6 linked regions of the Homo sapiens genome follow. The protein of the gene in region 1 interacts with the protein of each later gene in a pairwise test. Each region holds a gene or a part of one and is shown in the gene's direction. Other genes may lie near its edges. The genes, in order: JPH1, TMEM120B, RSPH1, PLP1, UACA and EMP1.

The links.
Region 2: the proteins of JPH1 (region 1) and TMEM120B interact in binary tests that used the Homo sapiens proteins (3 or more experiments, as listed by UniProt).
Region 3: the proteins of JPH1 (region 1) and RSPH1 interact in a two-hybrid assay, tested with the Homo sapiens proteins (one large-scale study listed by BioGRID and IntAct).
Region 4: the proteins of JPH1 (region 1) and PLP1 interact in binary tests that used the Homo sapiens proteins (3 or more experiments, as listed by UniProt).
Region 5: the proteins of JPH1 (region 1) and UACA interact in a two-hybrid assay, tested with the Homo sapiens proteins (one large-scale study listed by BioGRID and IntAct).
Region 6: the proteins of JPH1 (region 1) and EMP1 interact in binary tests that used the Homo sapiens proteins (3 or more experiments, as listed by UniProt).

What each region holds. Positions count from the first base shown.
Region 1 is NC_000008.11:74,241,541-74,245,040, reverse strand, and holds part of JPH1 (junctophilin-1), read left to right. Parts: coding exon 1-512; intron 513-3,500. UniProt on the Homo sapiens protein: Junctophilins contribute to the formation of junctional membrane complexes (JMCs) which link the plasma membrane with the endoplasmic or sarcoplasmic reticulum in excitable cells.
Region 2 is NC_000012.12:121,719,252-121,722,751, forward strand, and holds part of TMEM120B (transmembrane protein 120B), read left to right. Parts: intron 1-3,500. UniProt on the Homo sapiens protein: Necessary for efficient adipogenesis. Does not show ion channel activity.
Region 3 is NC_000021.9:42,482,725-42,486,224, reverse strand, and holds part of RSPH1 (radial spoke head 1 homolog), read left to right. Parts: intron 1-420; coding exon 421-556; intron 557-3,500.
Region 4 is NC_000023.11:103,789,980-103,793,119, forward strand, and holds the end of PLP1 (myelin proteolipid protein), read left to right. Parts: intron 1-547; coding exon 548-619; 3' UTR 620-2,640; downstream 2,641-3,140.
Region 5 is NC_000015.10:70,659,059-70,662,558, reverse strand, and holds part of UACA (uveal autoantigen with coiled-coil domains and ankyrin repeats), read left to right. Parts: intron 1-2,342; coding exon 2,343-2,408; intron 2,409-3,500. UniProt on the Homo sapiens protein: Regulates APAF1 expression and plays an important role in the regulation of stress-induced apoptosis. Promotes apoptosis by regulating three pathways, apoptosome up-regulation, LGALS3/galectin-3 down-regulation and NF-kappa-B inactivation.
Region 6 is NC_000012.12:13,199,726-13,203,225, forward strand, and holds part of EMP1 (epithelial membrane protein 1), read left to right. Parts: intron 1-3,500.

The sequences.
Region 1 (3,500 bases):
CTCCTGAGGCAAGTCCCAAACACAGCCACTCTCCTGCTTCCTCCCCAAAGCCCCTGAAGAAGCAAAACCCCAGCTCAGGGGCGAGACTCAACCAAGACAAAAGGAGTGTGGCTGATGAGCAGGTGACGGCCATTGTCAATAAGCCCTTGATGTCAAAGGCTCCCACGAAGGAGGCAGGAGCGGTTGTGCCCCAGTCCAAGTACTCTGGCCGCCACCACATCCCCAACCCCAGTAACGGGGAGCTGCATTCTCAGTATCACGGCTACTACGTGAAGCTGAACGCCCCCCAGCACCCTCCAGTAGACGTGGAGGACGGCGATGGATCCAGCCAGTCTTCCTCAGCACTGGTGCACAAGCCATCCGCTAACAAGTGGAGTCCCTCCAAATCTGTGACAAAACCAGTTGCCAAAGAAAGCAAAGCTGAGCCAAAAGCTAAGAAGTCTGAACTTGCTATACCAAAGAATCCAGCAAGCAACGATTCATGCCCTGCTTTGGAAAAAGAAGCCAATTCAGTAAGTACTGCAAGTAGCGTTTTCTCTTTCTTTCTTCCCTTTGTTTCTTTCAGCGAGCTGTGTGGGGTGACTGTGCATCTTGATCACAGCCAGGCTAACCAAGGTTCTAGAAGCACAGGGTTGTTTAGAGCAGCACATAACACATTGGTAGCTTGAGACAGCAAAGAGCTCTCTGGGCAGAAATTCCCCCCACCACCCCTATGTTCACCCAGCCCCACTTTAGATGTAATTCAGGTAGGTAAGACCTGACCAGCTTAGCACAGCATCTTAGCACATTTTAGCAAGGCTTTAACAGCGTGTCTTGGTGAGCTTCCTGGTAGCTTGCTCTCTGATTGCTGGAAAGGAATCATGACCCCTGCCAAGGGCCAGCCGCTCTCAGAGCTCTAGGAAAAGGGCACCAACAAGTTCTTAGTTCTCCTGTTTTCACCACAGCGGTCAGCATCTTTACACAAAAGAACGTCTCCTCTAGCCGTTGTGAATTCTTCTCATACATACGTAGTTTGGACTTTAATTAGCCAGGCTTTGCAGCTAGAACATTTTTCTTTCCCAAAAGAGAACTGAAAATTTCCAACAGTTCAAGAGAATTTCTTTGGTCTTCTGTCTTTTCAAAGTGTGAGAACTCTTACAATTTCAGTTTTCTGGTAGATGCAGGTTATTAGTATCAATTAGTCTTAAGCATTTAAGATATTTATTTATTATTCAGCCAGAAAAGCTCTGTGTTATTGAAAAATCTTTATACCTTCTTTAAAAGGAGATTTTTTGAATAATGTATGGAATTAGTGTTTTATCAAATGCTATAGTATTTATAAAATCTGAAGCTAATTATTGATTAAAAAATGACCTCTTGACCTGATCACATCCCTTTAGAACAGAGGTGTTGAAAGTTACACACCTAGTATTCACTAGAAATTATAGAGACATATTTGCATAATGGTGTGGATTAATATCTTGGCCAACAAGAATATAGTACAGCCATCAGTTTCTTATTTTTGTCTGTTTGATTTACTCACAGGATTAAACAATTAAAATTCCTCTGTTAACTTATGCTTAAAATTTCTTGTGTGTTTATTTTGCTAATATCTATAAAACACTGGTTCTCTTCTTTTTTCAAATTTTCAACTTTTTAATTAGCTAAACATAAATTATTCAGATTAACTGGACCAACTTCCTAGGAGTCCACCTGCATGGAGAAAAATTGTTTTCAAAACAGACTAACTTTAAGATTCTGACTCTTCAGTAAGCATTCATTTTAAAGATTTTAAACCTTAATATGACAGTATCTTGACATTACAACTATAATAATCACTATTGAATTTGTTAAATGTAATAGCTTACTTCTCATTTGACTTTCAGCATGTTTATCCCCAGGTTAATAAGGCCTCGCATATATCAGTGTTAGTTTGCCTGATTTACACAGGGAAAAATTCAAACAATGCAAGGCCATACCTTTTATACCTTTGGGTACCCATTTGTGGGCTTTAGTTGACTTCTAGACTTCTACAAGGGGAAGTGTATGCCCCAGCGTCCTATACATTAGGCTGTGATAGGGGGAAAAAAAAGTTGAATTACCCAGCTCTTAGCTGAAAGAGTCTCTCTGTAAAACAGTAGTATACGTATGTTTGGTAAATTCACAGCCTCCTCATTTAGAAAAAACATCTGTTTTACTTATTTGCGGAATTCTCAGATTCTTGGAGTTAGACAAGCATCCTCCATCTCAGTAGTTGGTCCTTAGGGTACCCCTCTACACCCCAAGGGGGAAGGGAAGCCCCAGCAGCTCCGCAGCTACCCTGAGCTTTAGACTGCCTCTGCAAAATTCAAGACCGACTTGACACCTTCACGCGAAGATTCTAATAATTAACATTGTCTTCCCAATAGTAACAGAACGCTGCCGTCCCCACTCCTCAGAGTTAGGAAGTGGCACAGTCATCATAAATGTTGTCAGTGGATGACCTTTAAGATAATGGAGTACTACATAGTTTTGAGAGAAAGACACTGTATAAGTTAGACATTCGTGAATAATTTTAAAATTCACAGAATTGAACTCTGTTGCTGAACTTCCTCGGTTCACATCCCAGCTCTGTTGCTTACCAGCTGTGTGACCCTGGACAGTTTCCTAACTGCTCTGTGCCTTGGTTTCCTCATCTGTACCTATCACAGGGTTGTTGTGAAGATTAAATGAGTCAATACTTTAAAAGTTCTTAGCATAGTGCCTAGCGCAGAATAAATGCTCAAAAAACCTTGGCTATTATGATGTTTGTTTCAACACAATGCTAACTGAAGCATAAGCAGTTCAGAAATATTCAAGTAGATCTGATCCATCCTCAGGATCACCCTGGCTATTGATCTCCTAGAAATACAGAAAATCTCCTGGGATGGAGACTAACACAGGAAATTAGTTAACTCGAGTATGAGAGGTAGGAGAAGGGAGGCTGTGGCATTGATTACTTTCTTGAGGAAGATTTTCCTCAAGAAACTTTTGTGACCCCTGTGGGCAATGGTTGCGTATGGACTCATGTCCTAGGGGCACGCATTCAATGTGATCCCGAAATTTTTGTAGAGTTTTGCAACATGACAACTCTGGTAGGGTCAGAAGAGGCATCTTTAGCGTCTTACCATCAAGTAGACAAGAGGGGAATTTTCCAATTAGGTATCTCAGCCCATTCTGAAAAATGACTACACTTTTTTCTCAGCCATTCCTGTGATTTGCATCCAAGTTTGTTTTGAGGTTCATCTAATCTTTCTTTTGAATTTGTGTAAAATTTAAAGCGTCCCCATCAAATTGGGTTTGAACCTCACCCCCGAAAGAGGTAAATATATATAATTAAACTTTGCTGTTAATACTTAATTAAACTTTGTTCTTCTCTTGTGTTTCTAGCTAGAGAAGCTTTAGATTTCACATAAACCATAGTAACTCTTCTAGCAGAAAATTCCTTACAGTTTTAAATATGAGTGACAATCTCTTAAAGGAAAAAAAGATAATTTTTTGAG
Region 2 (3,500 bases), on another chromosome or scaffold:
AAAACAGAGAGAGGGATGCTGGACAGGCACCTTTTGGGGGGCTAATAGAAATTGTTGGCTGGGTGTAGTGGCCTATGCCTGTAATCCCAACAGGAGGCTGAGGCAGGTAGATCGCTTGAGCCCAGGAGTTTGAGACCAGCCTGGGCAATGTAGTAAGACCCTGACTCTACAAAAAACCACAAAAATTAGCTAGGCATGGTGGCGTGCACCCATGGTCCCACCTACTTGGGAGGCTGAAGTGGGAGGATTACCTAAGTTCAGGAAGTGGAGGTTGCAGTAAGCTGAGATCCTGCCACTGCACCCCAGCCTGGGTGACAGAGTGAGACCCTGTCTCAAAAAATGTTTTTTTCTTCAAGGGAAACAGTGGCATCGATTGGACACTGCTTAAATTGCTAACGGGGGTAGTTTAAGGGGGTGGTTCACAGTTGCATGTTAGGCCACACTGCATTCTTTTTTTTTTGAGACGGAGTTTTGCTCTTGTTGTCCAGGCTGGAGTACAATGGCTCTGTCTCGGCTCACTGCAACCTCTGCCTCTCGGGTTCAAGTGATTCTCCTGCCTCAGCCTCCTGAGTAGCTGTAGCTAGGACTACAGGCACATGCCACCACACCTGGCTAATTTTTGTATTTTTAGTAGAGACAGGGTTTCACCATGTTGGCCAGCTGGTCTCGAACTCCTGACCTCAGGTGATCTGCCCACCTCGGCCTCCCAGAGTGCTGGGATTATAGGCATGAGCCACCTTGCCCGGCCCACACTACATTCTTGATGATGTCACATCTTTGTGACAGTGCCTAGCCTGCTGCATGCACCTCATCTCCTAGCTCTTTCACAGCTGATGACACCGAGGCACAGAGGGATTACATAACTCAGCTAATAAGTGGCAGGCTCTGGATCTGAACTCGGGCAACTTGATGGCAGCATCAAATCACTTAACCATTGTGTTTTCATGCCACCCAAATGCGTGCCTCCCACGCACAGACCCCCACTTACCGCTCCCGTAACATACCGTTCATGGATTCTGACACATGACTCAGAATCTGTCCCGCACAGGACGCATACACGTTAGGCGAAGTCATCCTTGGTGGTGTTTCTATGGTGATGAGTCCTGGTTAAGTATAGTCAGCGTCTGAAAGTCTATTTGAAGTTGATTTCTTAGAGCTATATAAAAGTAATCTCTTGTCCAGGCACAGTGGCTCATGCCTGTAATCCCAGCACCTTGGGAGGCCAAGATAGGCAGGTCATTTGAGCTCAGGAGTTTGAGACCAGCCTAGGCAACATGGCAAAACCCCTGTCTCTACAAAAAATACAAAAATTAGCCAGGCATGGTGGCACAGGCCTGTAGTTTCAGCTACTCGGGTGGTTGAGAGAGGAGGATCGCCTGAGCCCAGGGAGGTGAAGGCTGTGGTGAGCAGCCATGATTGTGTCACTGCACTCCAGACTGGGCGACAGAGTAAGACTGTGTCTCAAAAGAAAAAAAAAAGGAATCTCTTGAAAGTTTACCACCAGCAAGAGGCACAGCTCTAAGGCACCACACTTAAGTGGCGGTATGGCCCTATTGCAGTCTACTGGACTGCCCAGCGACTTCTGATGCTCCTGGGCCAGAACCATGTCTGTAAATGCCGTGAGATTCCTCTAGCAATTCCTGCAACACATGTTGACTCCCCAGTCCTGGATCTTCCGACAGCCAAGATGTGTTAAGGAGGTGTCTTCAGATGTTTCACATCTGTACTGGGAACAGGAGTCATTAACCTCATCTTCCCACTGGGGCAGAGCTTGGGTCTCAGAGGACAGCAGAGGTGGCAGAGATCCCTGAATCTTCCAAAGGAAACTTGCTTGTTTGTGTCTTCTACATGCGGAGGATGGTAATTAGACAAGTAGGGAAGATGCTCTGGGCATGACAGCTCACAGAGCTCATGTGAGCAGTTCTCCTTTTTGTTGTTGTTTTGTAAGAGAGGGTCTCACTTTGTCGCCCAGGCTGGAATGCAGTGGTCCCATCATGGATCACTGCAGCTTCAACTTCCTGGGTTCAAGTGATTCTCCCTCTTCAGCCTCCTGAGTATCTGGGACTACAGGCACACACCACCACACTTGGCTAAGTTTTGTAATTTTTGTAGAGATGGGGTTTTGTCATGTTGCCCAGGCTGGTCTTGAACTTCTGGCCTCAAGCATTCCTCCCATCTCAGCCTCCCAAAGTGCTGAGACTATAGGTATGAGTGCCTGGTCCTCCTTTTTTTTTTTCAACCAAGAGTTTCACTCTTGTTGCCCAGGCTGGAGTGCAGTGGTGCCATCTTGGCTCACTGCAACCTCCGCCTTCTGGTTTCAAGCAATTCTTCTGCCTCAGTCTCCCGAGTAGCTGGGATTGCAGGCAGGCACCACCACGCCCAGCTAATTTTTGTATTTTTAGTAGATGGGGTTTCACCATGTTGGCCAAGCTGGTCTTGAACTCCTAACCTCGTGATCCGCCCACTCCAGCCTCCCAAAGTGCTGGGATTACAGGCATAAGCCACTGCATTCAGCCCTGGCCCTCCTTTTTTTTTGAATGGAATCAGTTCTACTTTTTTTTTTTTTTTTTTTTTTGAGACAGCGTCTTGCTCTGTCGCCCAGGCTGGAGTGCAGTGGCTCAATCTTAGCTCATTGCAACCTCTGCCTCCCGGGTTCAAGCGATTTTCCTGCCTCAGCCTCCTGAGTAGCTGGGACTACAGGCATGTGCCACCATGCCCAGCTAATTTTTGTATTTTTAGTAGAGTTTCACCATGTTGGCCAGGATGGTCTCGATCTCTTGACCTTGTGATCCGCCCGCTTTGGCCTCTCAAAGTGCTGGGATTATAGGCGTGAGCCACCACACCTGGCCTTTTTTTTTTTTTTTTGAGATAGAGTCTCGCTCTGTTGCCCAGGCTGGAATACAGTGGCACGATCTCGGCTCACTGCAACCTCTGCCTCCCGGGTTCAAGCGATTCTTCTGCCTCAGCCCCCTGAGTAGTTGGTATTACAGGCGTGTGCTACCACAGCAGGCTAATTTTTTTATTTGTAGTAGATACGGGGTTTTACCATGTTGATCAGGCTAGTGTCGAACTCCTGACCTTGTGATCTGCTCACCTCAGCCTCCCACAGTGCTGGGATTAGAGGCGTAAGCCACTGTGCCCGGCCTCCATTCTACATTTTTATAAGTAATACATATTCACACAGTTAAAAATTCATGTAGCAGCCATGCATAGTAGTTTTTATAACACAACTAAAAACTGGCAACCTGAACGTCCGTGGGAATGGATCATTACACTGAGCACCCAGAGAGAGGTGAAGCAGGAGAGTGAATAAACTGAGCTACCTGTGTTAACATCCTGCAGAAAGTTGCAGAGGGGTATGTACAATGTGGCACTTGCAATAAAGGCAAAAACATTGAAAACAACACAGTATATTGCTTAATGATACATTGTATGTAGTCCAAGTATAAAGACTTGCAAAGGAGTGATAAAGACCACAGTTGGTGCTATCATGGAAATTC
Region 3 (3,500 bases), on another chromosome or scaffold:
TTGAGGCAAGGATGCCTTTCTGTGCAAGTGTAGACTCAAGTATCTGACATCTGCACCTCAGTTGGGGCAGAGCACGTGAGTCTTTCACCCAAGAGTCCCAGGGAGTGGAGGGCACAGAAGAGCCACTGGGGGACCTGAGCCACAGCTCCCACTAGCTCTGCCTCTTCCCTGGGGAAAGCAGCTGACACACAGGAGGCTTGCCTCTGTCCAGCTGGCCTGTCCTCTGTGCCTCTGGCAATGTCCTGTGCTTGGGGCACACTGAGCAAGGGGCACCTTCTGACTGGACACAGATATAGAAGCTACATCGCTTGTGAGCCTGCAACAGCCTGGGCCTCCCTCAATGTCAATGTCTGTGTTTTAAACCTGGGAGATTTTTCACTGTGCTGGAACGAAATACCATGTTCCCCTTGTCTTAACCAGGCATGGGCAAGGCACCTATTTATACGCGGAGACGGGCAGTAAGTATGTTGGCACCTGGGTGAACGGACAGCAGGAGGGCACGGCCGAGCTCATTCACCTGAACCACAGGTACCAGGGCAAGTTCTTGAACAAAAATGTAAGTCCATGGGAAGTGACATTTGCCAATGAAGTACAAAATAACCCCCTCTGGCAGCCTGTGCAAATGTGTGACCAGAGAATACCAAAAACTCAGAGAAAACTGAGTCCGGCCTATTCAAATGTGGAGAACAGGACAGCTGTGCCATTCTCTGAGCCTCTGGTACCCACAGAGCACAGAATTGGGGGAAGGGAGGGATTGGCCCGTTTCTCTGGATCTCAGTACAAATTCCCACTGTCTTTCAGCGGGGACCTGTTGCATTGTTATATAACACGAGAGGGCATCTGAACCTCTTGTGTGTATTCCTTCTCATGGGTAAATCAGATACCAAATATCTATTTCCTGCAATTGAGCATAGAGGTGTTTGGGTTTTGTTTCCCTGGAAGGGGAGGTGCGACATCCCTGGGGAGGAAGACCCCCAGCTCCCTCCTCATGCTACAGGCCAGCCTGCGTGCTCCTAGTTGTGGTGGGAATTAAGGCTGCCAAGGGCCTGGCCCTGCGTCTGGAGGCTTGCCAGCTTCTAGCACCCATGGTGGGCCGTTTCTGTTTGGAAGACTCGGTGGTTCCTCTTGCCCTTATTGTACAGAGAAACCTTGAATAATTCAGAAGCTAATACTCAGGCCATCGTGGTAGCTTTGATCAGGGGTTGAGCAGAAACTTTCCCTGAAGAGAGAATTTGCGGAGCAAATTGATGGTGTTAGAAGTTGACAGAGGGAATGTTTAGCTGATACAACGAAGTCTCTTCAGACTCTCTTAGAACCCAGTTTTCATTTACGTATAATTCATGCCCTAACCACAGATTTTACTTTTAGTCTTCATCAAAACAGCACATTCCCCTCAAACCCATACATTGTTTATATAATTCCCAGCAAACTTTCTGTGGGTCTTTTTGGAGGAGATGGGAAGGTGGTTGCAGAGGAAGAGAATTTGATGAAAATGAATCTGGAAGAATCAATCAGCTTGTCCAGCCTAAACCAGTCTGAAAAATCGGGGTAAAAATGGAGGCTTTGTTTTGCTAGTTAGTAAAAAACTTTAAATTATACAAATAATACACAAGTACATTCCAATTGTAAAGCATTTAAACACTAGGATCCTGCCCCACCACCCTGGGCCCAATCCTTCCACACTATTTCTGTGTGTCATGTAAGCACATTCTAATACAGTCATCTGACACAGAATTATTGTTTGGGGGTTTTAATTACATAATTAGGATCATACTGTGTCAGGATACAAAAATATACATAAAGATACATATTTGTCATTTTGCACATTTGGGACTATTGTGTAGGTTAGATAATGGAATTGTGAAACCTTTGAGGATTGGCATTTAGAATCACAATCGGTAGTGCCCATTTTCCTAAAAAGTGGTGTCAGTTTATACTCTTGCCAATAGAATATGAGTCTGTTTATCATATATTCTCATCGATGTTGGATATTCTCAGTCTTTAATGTTGTTTTTGTTCTTTTCCAATCTTATGGGTAAAAAATGTCATCTCATTGTTTTAATGTGTACTTCCCTGATTACTAGTGAGGTCAAACATCTTGTCACATGTTTATTGCTGGTTTGTGTTTCTTCCTCAGAAAATTCCCTGTACATGTCCTTGTGGACAAGTTATCAATACCACAAAACTTCAATAATTAAAACAGTGTGATACCAGGATACACACACACACACACACCAATGAAGCAAATTAGGAAGTCCAGAGACAGTTCCCAGTATATAAAATAATTTCACACACAATAAGCGTGTCAAATTAACAAAGGGATGATGGGAGGAGTCAAGACATAGTGCTAGGAACACTTGACAATTATTTGGGAGGAAAATAATAGTTTTGCCTTCACACAGATGAAGATACTTTCTAGAAGAAGTAAAGATTTAAATGTACCCTAGGAAATATAGAAAAAAAATGTAGATGAATATTAACCTTGAAATGAGGAAAGAGAACTTTCTAAACAGAAATAGAAAGGAAAAACCAATAGGTTTAGCTTTATAAAAATAACTTCTTATAGATTAGAAAATGCTGTAAAGAAAATCTAAGAGATGACTGTTAAATGGGGAGAGAATATTTGCAACATTTAATATATAAAGTGTTTTATCAATCAATGTGATTTAAATGGCTAAAAATCTTGAAAAAAATGCAGGCTTACTAACAACTGAAATGAAGTGAATTAAAATTGTGAGACCCTGTTGTTTTATATAAAAAAACATGTAAAAATAGACCATTTTTACACTCCTAAAATCAAGAGTTTGAGGATCTGGGACTCTTAAGTGCAGTTATGGGAATGAAACGATTAGAGCCTCATCTAATCAAAGCACATGTATGCTTTTGTCCAGAAATTCTGAGAATTTAAGGATGGTATCAAAAGCGTACATAAAGTTTTAACTCAGAGTACGTTTGCTGGAGCGTTCTTTGTAAAAAAAAAAAAAAAATCAGTATCCCAAATACCAACAATAGTAACTGAGTAAAATAGGTTGCAATCCATAGATGAAATAAAGTACCAGGTGGCAACTGTTATTAGGAAAGAATATTTGTAAATACGGGAAGTAGTTCATGCCATATTTCTCAGTAAAAATAGAGTATGAGTTAGTATGTATAATTATGATCAGATTTTTATTTAACCATGTATACTAGAAGCAAAGTTACAAAGAATGCATCAAAATATTAGTAGTAGTTCCATCGGTAGCTAGTTTGCCTATGGATACTGATTCACTGAGGTTTTCTGAAAATGAATACATCACTTTTATAAAAAAGTAAAATGTGGTTAAAGTTTCCAAAAGTAAACAAAACAGGGCATATAAGTTCCAATCCCATCAGCCACGAGTTCACAAAAGCATTCCTTAATCCATGTTACACTTTACCCAATTTGGTGATTTGAGGTGGGTATTGTGGTGGTGACATTTGTATTTTGTATTTTCTGCTGGGTGTTGACACTTAAGAATGGT
Region 4 (3,140 bases), on another chromosome or scaffold:
AAGGCACTGAAGGGTGAAGTGATTTATCTGAAGTTATTTTATAAGCAGTGATCAGACAAGATGAGCTCACAGAACTCCTGGCCCCTACTGCTGAGGTTTCCATACAGAGTCAAGTAATTTCTCACCTTGTAAAACGAATTGATTCATTAACCAGGGGAGAGCTCTACTGCATGATGTGGCTGTGTGTCTACAGCAAGCACCCTATGACTCTAAGTCACTCGGACATATTGATGTGGCAAAGCCCAAATATTGTTCACTTCCCTGAGGAAAACTCAGTGCTAGATCAAACAGAGGTGTGGAATAAATCTTTATGATTTGATTCTCTGGGCCTGGGCCATGAGACCCATGATGCCTCAGAGACATCGGACTTCCAGTCAAGTGTATATGGAGAAAGCCAAGCCTGGGATGTACTGCTTTTTGCAGAGCATGGGTTTTTCCCTTATTTAGTTATGATTTTATTTCTACCCTTCCTCATTCCCAAAGGGATTTGAGGAGGGAGTGCTTTCTTTTCTACTCTCATTCACATTCTCTCTTCTGTTCCCTACAGCTCACCTTCATGATTGCTGCCACTTACAACTTTGCCGTCCTTAAACTCATGGGCCGAGGCACCAAGTTCTGATCCCCCGTAGAAATCCCCCTTTCTCTAATAGCGAGGCTCTAACCACACAGCCTACAATGCTGCGTCTCCCATCTTAACTCTTTGCCTTTGCCACCAACTGGCCCTCTTCTTACTTGATGAGTGTAACAAGAAAGGAGAGTCTTGCAGTGATTAAGGTCTCTCTTTGGACTCTCCCCTCTTATGTACCTCTTTTAGTCATTTTGCTTCATAGCTGGTTCCTGCTAGAAATGGGAAATGCCTAAGAAGATGACTTCCCAACTGCAAGTCACAAAGGAATGGAGGCTCTAATTGAATTTTCAAGCATCTCCTGAGGATCAGAAAGTAATTTCTTCTCAAAGGGTACTTCCACTGATGGAAACAAAGTGGAAGGAAAGATGCTCAGGTACAGAGAAGGAATGTCTTTGGTCCTCTTGCCATCTATAGGGGCCAAATATATTCTCTTTGGTGTACAAAATGGAATTCATTCTGGTCTCTCTATTACCACTGAAGATAGAAGAAAAAAGAATGTCAGAAAAACAATAAGAGCGTTTGCCCAAATCTGCCTATTGCAGCTGGGAGAAGGGGGTCAAAGCAAGGATCTTTCACCCACAGAAAGAGAGCACTGACCCCGATGGCGATGGACTACTGAAGCCCTAACTCAGCCAACCTTACTTACAGCATAAGGGAGCGTAGAATCTGTGTAGACGAAGGGGGCATCTGGCCTTACACCTCGTTAGGGAAGAGAAACAGGGTGTTGTCAGCATCTTCTCACTCCCTTCTCCTTGATAACAGCTACCATGACAACCCTGTGGTTTCCAAGGAGCTGAGAATAGAAGGAAACTAGCTTACATGAGAACAGACTGGCCTGAGGAGCAGCAGTTGCTGGTGGCTAATGGTGTAACCTGAGATGGCCCTCTGGTAGACACAGGATAGATAACTCTTTGGATAGCATGTCTTTTTTTCTGTTAATTAGTTGTGTACTCTGGCCTCTGTCATATCTTCACAATGGTGCTCATTTCATGGGGTATTATCCATTCAGTCATCGTAGGTGATTTGAAGGTCTTGATTTGTTTTAGAATGATGCACATTTCATGTATTCCAGTTTGTTTATTACTTATTTGGGGTTGCATCAGAAATGTCTGGAGAATAATTCTTTGATTATGACTGTTTTTTAAACTAGGAAAATTGGACATTAAGCATCACAAATGATATTAAAAATTGGCTAGTTGAATCTATTGGGATTTTCTACAAGTATTCTGCCTTTGCAGAAACAGATTTGGTGAATTTGAATCTCAATTTGAGTAATCTGATCGTTCTTTCTAGCTAATGGAAAATGATTTTACTTAGCAATGTTATCTTGGTGTGTTAAGAGTTAGGTTTAACATAAAGGTTATTTTCTCCTGATATAGATCACATAACAGAATGCACCAGTCATCAGCTATTCAGTTGGTAAGCTTCCAGGAAAAAGGACAGGCAGAAAGAGTTTGAGACCTGAATAGCTCCCAGATTTCAGTCTTTTCCTGTTTTTGTTAACTTTGGGTTAAAAAAAAAAAAAGTCTGATTGGTTTTAATTGAAGGAAAGATTTGTACTACAGTTCTTTTGTTGTAAAGAGTTGTGTTGTTCTTTTCCCCCAAAGTGGTTTCAGCAATATTTAAGGAGATGTAAGAGCTTTACAAAAAGACACTTGATACTTGTTTTCAAACCAGTATACAAGATAAGCTTCCAGGCTGCATAGAAGGAGGAGAGGGAAAATGTTTTGTAAGAAACCAATCAAGATAAAGGACAGTGAAGTAATCCGTACCTTGTGTTTTGTTTTGATTTAATAACATAACAAATAACCAACCCTTCCCTGAAAACCTCACATGCATACATACACATATATACACACACAAAGAGAGTTAATCAACTGAAAGTGTTTCCTTCATTTCTGATATAGAATTGCAATTTTAACACACATAAAGGATAAACTTTTAGAAACTTATCTTACAAAGTGTATTTTATAAAATTAAAGAAAATAAAATTAAGAATGTTCTCAATCAAACATCGTGTCCTTTGAGTGAATTGTTCTATTTGACTTCACAATAGAAACTTAATAATCGTACCTTGTTCAAGGAGATCATTCATTTTTCAGCTCATCCAAGTCATTCTCATAACATTTCTCTGAAATAAATAGTATATGAATAGATTACTTCTACTTTTATAGTTGAAGACACTAAGAAATAGAAGCAAAGTAATTTGCCCAAAGAAATCCAGTAAGTACATGTCTGAGCTTGTGTTAAAACGCAGATATTGAAACCAATTTATTGCCTACTTAAAGGTTTCTTTTCTCTTCGAAGTTGGGTTTCAGAATGTTCAGAGTCAACTATGGTTACTTTTTCAATACCTTAGTGGTGCCCCAGTCCCCGGTGCATTTAGATTTAAGTTATTGTTACCTTCTCTTTAAATTGTTTGGATATTCCAGTAATGATCCCTTAGTAATTCATACGTGACTAATATTTAGTTTTATTTGGATAGTACTGGATGGAAGGTTTAGTACTTAAA
Region 5 (3,500 bases), on another chromosome or scaffold:
TTGACTTGGCGATGCAGGCTCTTTTTTGGTTCCATATGAACTTTAAAGTAGTTTTTTCCAATTCTGTGAAGAAAGTCATTGGTAGCTTGATGGGGATGGCATTGAATCTATAAATTACCTTGGGCAGTATAGCCATTTTCATGACATTGATTCTTCCTACCCATGAGCATGGAATGTTCTCCCATTTGTTTGTATCCTCTTTTATTTCATTGAGCAGTGGTTTGTAGTTTGCCATGAAGAGGTCCTTCACATCTCTTGTAAGTTGGATTCCTAGGTATTTTATTCTCTTTGAAGCAATCGTGAATGGGAGTTCACTCATGATTTGGCTCTCTGTTTGTCTGTTATTGGTGTATAAGAATGCTTGTGATTTTTGCACATTGATTTTGTACCCTGAGACTTTGCTCAAGTTGCTTATCAGCTTAAGAAGATTTTGGGCTGAGATGATGGGGTTTTCTAGATATACAATGATGTCATCTGCAAACAGGGACAATTTGACTTCCTCTTTTCCTAATTGAATACCTTTTATTTCCTTCTCCTGCCTGATTGCCCTGGCCAGAACTTCCAATACTATGTTGAATAGGAGTGGCGAGAGAGGGCATCCCTGTCTTGTGCCAGTTTTCAAAGGGAATGCTTCCAGTTTTTGCCCATTCAGTATGATATTGGCTGTGGGTTTGTCATAGATAGCTCTTATTATTTTGAGATACGTCCCATCAATACCTAATTTATTGAGAGTTTTTAGCATGAAAAGTTGTTGAATTTTGTCAAAAGATGGGGTCTTCTATGTGGCTTAGGCTTGTCTCCAATGGGGTCTTGCTATAGGCTGATCTCCTGGGCTCAAGTGATCCTACTGCCTCAGCTTCCTGAGTATCTGGGACTATGCTTTTAATTATGCACTAATACACATTGAAATGCTAAGTAAAACGGCCCAGTCACATGTAAATTGTTGCTGATGTTTCCCTATTTCATAGAATTGTTTGAGTTATTTTTTAATAGAAGAAAGGTTTTTTGTTTTGTTTCTTTTTTAGTGTTTATTTTTTAACACTGTAGGCCTACAGATTAAGGATGGCAAATTGTGGATTTGGATCTTATCCAAAGAGTATAGTGTCCCTTTAATAATTGGAAATATTTGTTTATTGTTTATTATGTTCATGACCCTGTGCTAAGTGGGATAAAGAAAGTATGCCATTCCTGTCCCCAAGGAGTTCTGGGTAGTTAGAGAGGCAAAATACAGATTCATAAAAAGTAAAAATCACAAGATGAGAGATGTCAAATGTAGAACTGAGAATGCAGATTCTAAGTGATAGGGGTTTCCAGGAAGGAAAGATTAGTGGTGTGGTAGAAGCTAGTTTTTAAAGAAGGGAGTACCTGGCTTGAACTTGTAACGTAGATGCTATTTTGGTAGGTGAAAGGAAAGTAGAGGCTCTTCCATCTAAAGAAAATAGTGTAAAAGAAGCGTGGAGATGGAATACAAGTGGCATGGCCAGAGGGCAGTAAAAGCCCTGCCTGTAGAGTAGTCCCTCTCTTATCCACTGAGGGTATGTTCCAAGATCCCCAGTGGATGCCTGAAACCATGGATAGGACCTGCTGAATGAACCCTATATAAGCTATGTTTTCCCCCCAGATATACATACCTGTGATAAAGAGTAATTTATAAATTGGGCACAGTAAGAGATTAATAACAACATAATAAAATAGAACAATTATAACAATATGTTGTAATAAAAGTTATGTGAATGTGGTCTCTCTCTATATCTCAAAATATTGTATTATACCATGGGCAACAGAAATAGAGAAAGTGAAACTGCTCATCGCAAAACTGCCAATAAGAGGGGACTGCTGTATTTGAAAGTTAATGTTTGAAGCCAAACTGTGGAAGTCATTGAGAACCAAACTGATGAATTTGGATTCTCTCATGTATGTAAAGAAGTGTCACTCAAGGTTTTTGAGCCAAAAGTGATGTGAGGAAATAGGTACCTTAGTCTCAGAGGCATGGTAAGGAATATAGTGTGGAGATAGTAAGACAGGATGGGAAGCGTTTGCAATAATCCAGACATGTGATAAGTGTCTTCAGAAGTTCATGGCACTAGATATGAACTAAAGCAATAATTTGATGTTGCTTAGGGAAAGTAGCATTACTGTCATTAGCCACACATTCTTTACAGAAGTTTATATTGTTACGTTTTGAAATTCTGCATCTGGTAGGTCCAAGGTAGTTTGTTGTTAGAAGTAGCAGGATCGCCTTAATAATAATAATAGTTTTGTAGCATGAAGCCTGAGCATTGTCCAAAGTTTGGAAATGTGAACGCTGATAGTCACATCTGTCCATCTTTCCACATTTCTAGGATGCTGACAGACAGCACCAAGAAGTAATTGCAATTTATCGGACACACCTTCTTAGTGCTGCACAGGTAAAGAACTACTTCTCCTTTGGAAAGAATATTGCTTTAGAGATAATAATTTTTTATTTTCAAATAAATTTATGTGAAAGTAATTGATGTTTAAAGTAGCTGCACCCCCTATGCTTATTTAAAAATAATTATGTTTCTTTTAATCATTGTTTGTGGATCTCCCAGAAAAATTTACAAAGCTATATGGCAACACAACATCTTAAATTTAGTGTCGTCTCCATCTGCTTGTCACTCAGTTTATAGACAGTTTGGTAACATGTGATGGTAGCACACGTTAATGGTGTTGCTAGCTGGAGATAATGCCTTGACATCCACGTGTGGCTGTCATCTAAGAGGAGAGTGGGAATGGCTTTGAATACTAGAAAAGTACAAAAGTGACAAGCAGGGTGTTATGTGTATAGGATTGTAGTAATTAAAAATGATCTGTTTTACCAAGCCTTAACTTGGCTTGGTAAAGCCAAGGATTAATTAAGGAATAACAGTATGAATTCCCTTTTTTAGGGGTGTACTGAGAAAGTTATTGTTAAAATCATACTAAGAAATTACTAACATATAAAGGATACTATGCTTAATTTCCTGTAGAAACCCCGTGAGCAGCATCTTCAAAATTCTCAGAATAGATTTTTTTTCAGGAAGAAAATGTACTAAAAGAAACAAATTTTAGAATGACAGAGATCCTGGGAATTATTTGGATTTGAAGTATGTTAGGCCACACTGTAAAAACAAGCAAAAAAAAAAAAAAAAAAAAAAAAAAACAAACAAAAAATGAAGAAGGGAAAGATGGATGTTGAGAGAAAGCTTCAAAAAAAGAACAATTTTAAAAAGAGAACTAGATAAAATAATAAAAAGAAAGATACTTTATGATATCAAATTCTTAAAATCAATAGACCTGCCTCTTCTATAGGAAATGGAGGGGAAACTAATGAAAAAGAATGAATGATATGATAGAACAAGGGATCTTAGCTACTCTCTTTTGAGCAAATCAGAGATAAACTAGAATCTTAAAGTTTATTGCAATTATTAGAGAAGATTATTGAGGGACAGTGAATAGGAAGTTCAAGTGGGGAAATAGCAGAAAATCTGTATTAGAGA
Region 6 (3,500 bases), on another chromosome or scaffold:
ATTCCCCTTAGCAGGCCAACTCTAATTTTATTAAAGTTCCTTAAATCAAGCAAAATCAACTTCCTTATAACTTCCTGATTCTGCTGGCCTGAAACAACTCAGAAAATATCTATTCTGGTTTTGTTGTTGCTCCACCCAATGATTCTCATCCTCTAAACACTTAACGCCTATTTAATATTTAATGAATACAACTTGATGGATCTACATTGCATTATCTTTTCTTCTTCTTCTTCTTCTTCTTTTTTTTTTTTTTTTTGCCTAAGGCTCAGAAGGGCAGGGAGCATTTTTGAAGTTTGGAATTATGTACATAGTCAATCATACTCACGGGGTTTTTGATTTGGAGGTATTTAATTTTCTAAATGCATGAATATGGTTCCTTCTTTAACCTCCCACATGTATGTACATAGCTGCCTAACACAAAAGCTCAGGCCTATTTGGGACTCTCAGATGTACATACTCGGAGGGACACACCCAGTGTTGCTACCTACTAGGTCATGGTTAGATCAATCCAATACCAGGACACAGGCTTCTAGCTAGGCCTTTTGGGGATTGTCCCATAATTTGGTCCATAGTTCATGTAGCCCACACCTATACATTGTCACCACCCATCATAGTAATTACGGGAACAGGCTGCCCATCAAATGTAGCCTCCTTGTAATTGCTGGCCAGCAATCTGGGTATCAGCCCCTTGAGAAGAGCTCCTAACCCTTAACCAGCGTAGAACGGGAATTTTCTCACCATAAGCTTCCCTTTTCTAATACTCTTCCCAGATCCGCCCAGGTGATCTTGAATTTCTGGACTGCACTTGCTATTCAGTAATCAAGGAAGCCCAAATATGGTTCCAGTTAGGGGTTTACTTGAATCTTCAGCACCCAGCCCCGACATACACACGTCCTGAGACTGCTCTTTGCAACAATTCAGTCCCTGGTGTCCTGCCTGGGTAAAACCATTTCCTTCAATTTACCTGGGAGATTCACTGATACTAAAGCAGAAAGATGAAAGCACAAACACCTGTGGTGATTGCTGCTTCTCTCTTCCTTTTTAACAAAATGTTTGGGTCAAGGTTTTCTTTTGTGTTGTGGAGATGGCATTTCCCTGGAACTGCAATGGAATCCTCTGCTGTTGGTGCGCTTGGACTTACGTGGCTGTGACAGTTTTTCTATTTGCTGAGCCTGTTTCATGAATTGTTTCTTCAAACCGGGTAGTTAAACTAGAGAGCCCTTTCAGCACAGGTTGAAAGCGTGGCAAGAATCCTGGAGCAGATGTAAGACAGCTGACTAGGAAGACAGAGGGGCAGTGGTGTTATCTTGACGCTGCCATGTAACCACAGGCGAGACACTTGTCTTCTTGCTTTCGGAAGTTGAACTTGGTGGTTCTTTCAGACCCCTTATGGCTCTGAGATTCTAAGATTCACCCAGGCGTGGTAATCCCAGCTACTTGGGAGACTGAGGTGGGAGGATCACTTGAACCTAGGAGTTTGAGACCAGTCTGGGCAACATAGTGAGACCCTGTCTCTAAAAGAAGAATTTTAAAAAGCAGGGTGTGGTAGTGCATGCCTGTAGTCCCAGCTACTTGGGAAGCTGAGGCAGGAGGATTGATTGAGCCCCAGGGCTTTGAGGCTGTAGTCAGCTATGATTGTACCATTGCACTCCAGCCTGAGCAATGAAACAACACCCTGTCTCAAAAAAAACAAAAACAAAACAAACCAACAAACAAAAACACCAAAAAAACGAAAAACAAAAAAATTAAGATCCTACCATTTCTATTTTGAGATATCCCTTGCGCTGATGCTAGCAGCTGGCTTAATCTGTAAAAATTGATAGAAAAGTGAAATAGGGCAACGTGTGGCATTGAAAAGGGCATTTTGCAGAGGATTCTCGTCTCCTGGGTGCCTTGAGGACCCACGGAGCCTCCTCTGCCCCATCCACTCACAGATTCTTTAGGTATGGTGTTCCCCGGACTTACCCTCAGCCATGAGCATTCACTCGGCACTAGGAATAAAAGAAAGAGGTTTGAGTAATTAAACGTAAAGGGTGCCAGCTCAGATGAGGAGGGCAGGCTGAGTCTGTGAAGACATTGACAACAGCAAAGCATTCACCAGGAACAGAATCAGGCTCAGGGAGAAACTGAGCTGGCTCTGGGAAAGAAACTCCACCCTCTTCTTGAGGAGGGAGACCCTGCAGCATGAAGGTGTGGTGTACAGGTGTGGACAGGAGCAAATGAGGAACAGTTTGAGAGGAGGAAGAGGAAGGTGCAACTAGGACAGGAGGGAGGGAGGGAGGGCAAGTGGGATGCTGTTTCCCAGGCCTGTGTGTTGAGGGAGGAGGCAGGCAGAAAGACCTAGAAGCAGGAGAAAAAGCTAAGTGGATAGAGAAAGACAGAAAGGGGGCAAAAGAGCAAGGGAGAAGTGATGAGGATGTTTCCCCTTCCATCCTTCCACTCTTGTTTGGGGACCACCCACCCTCAATGTTTCAAGGCAGTCCTTCGGTCAAAATTCGATTCTTTGTCCCCTGTGAAGAATCTTTTGTCGCATTGGCTACTTCTTGTTTTTTCAGGATGGTTGACACCTCTTTGGTATCATTTTAGTTTCCACTACATGTGCCCACCAGGCTGGAACCTCTTCAATGTTTCTCCTCTTCCAGGTCAGATCAGAGCTGAGAGCAAAACGGGGTTCTTGATCCTTAGACTTCTCATTTCAAAGAATCAAAGACCCTTCCCCAGGACGCTGGAGAAGGGGAGTTGGACAGAGGTTTGCAACCCTGAAACAACTAGTTTGGGGCAAGGCAGTGTGTTCACATTGATCTCAGAGAAAGCTCTGAAGCTGAGACCTGGAGCTTCCCTTTATTGAAAGATAGTCTCCATGTCTGGGTGGGGTGGGGACTCCTGTGCTGAGGGTTAGAAGGTTGCTCGGAGTTTGCAGGGGGATATTGTTCGGGTCTGTTTTGGCCAGGCAGGCTGGCTCTGCTGGGTGGGACTTCTCAGCAAAACGACAGGGAGAAGCAGTGGCCTCGGAAGACCCTGTGTTTTTATAATTGGCACAGTTTTAAGGGGTATATGCTGACTCTCTGATTAACTCAGAGAGGGTAGGAGGAAAAGAGAGAACAGTAGATCTGGTAGAAGTTCTAGAACTTCCACCAAACCCTAAGCCAAGAGACAGGAGAGAAAAAATCATGCCAGGTGGAAGAGCCCTGCCTGGAAGGTGCGAAATGGCTTCAGTTCTGATTCAATTCCATTTCTCCTTTGGGGACGTGCATTTCCTTCTTATCAAGGGGTTGGACTGAATGACCTCAATGCCTCTCAACCTCTAAAGAACGAATTGAAATGAAGCCCTGAGCCCACCTGATGGGTCTGGGGTGTCTCTAGGCGAGGGGCCTCCCCTCCCAGCTTGCCGCCTTCCAGGAGGCTGCAGCTTTGCTGGTTGAAGCATGTTGCCGCCATCTACTGTTGGTCCCACCCAAGCGCCGCTGGGGCCGGGCCACACCTAGGTTTTCTTCCCAAAC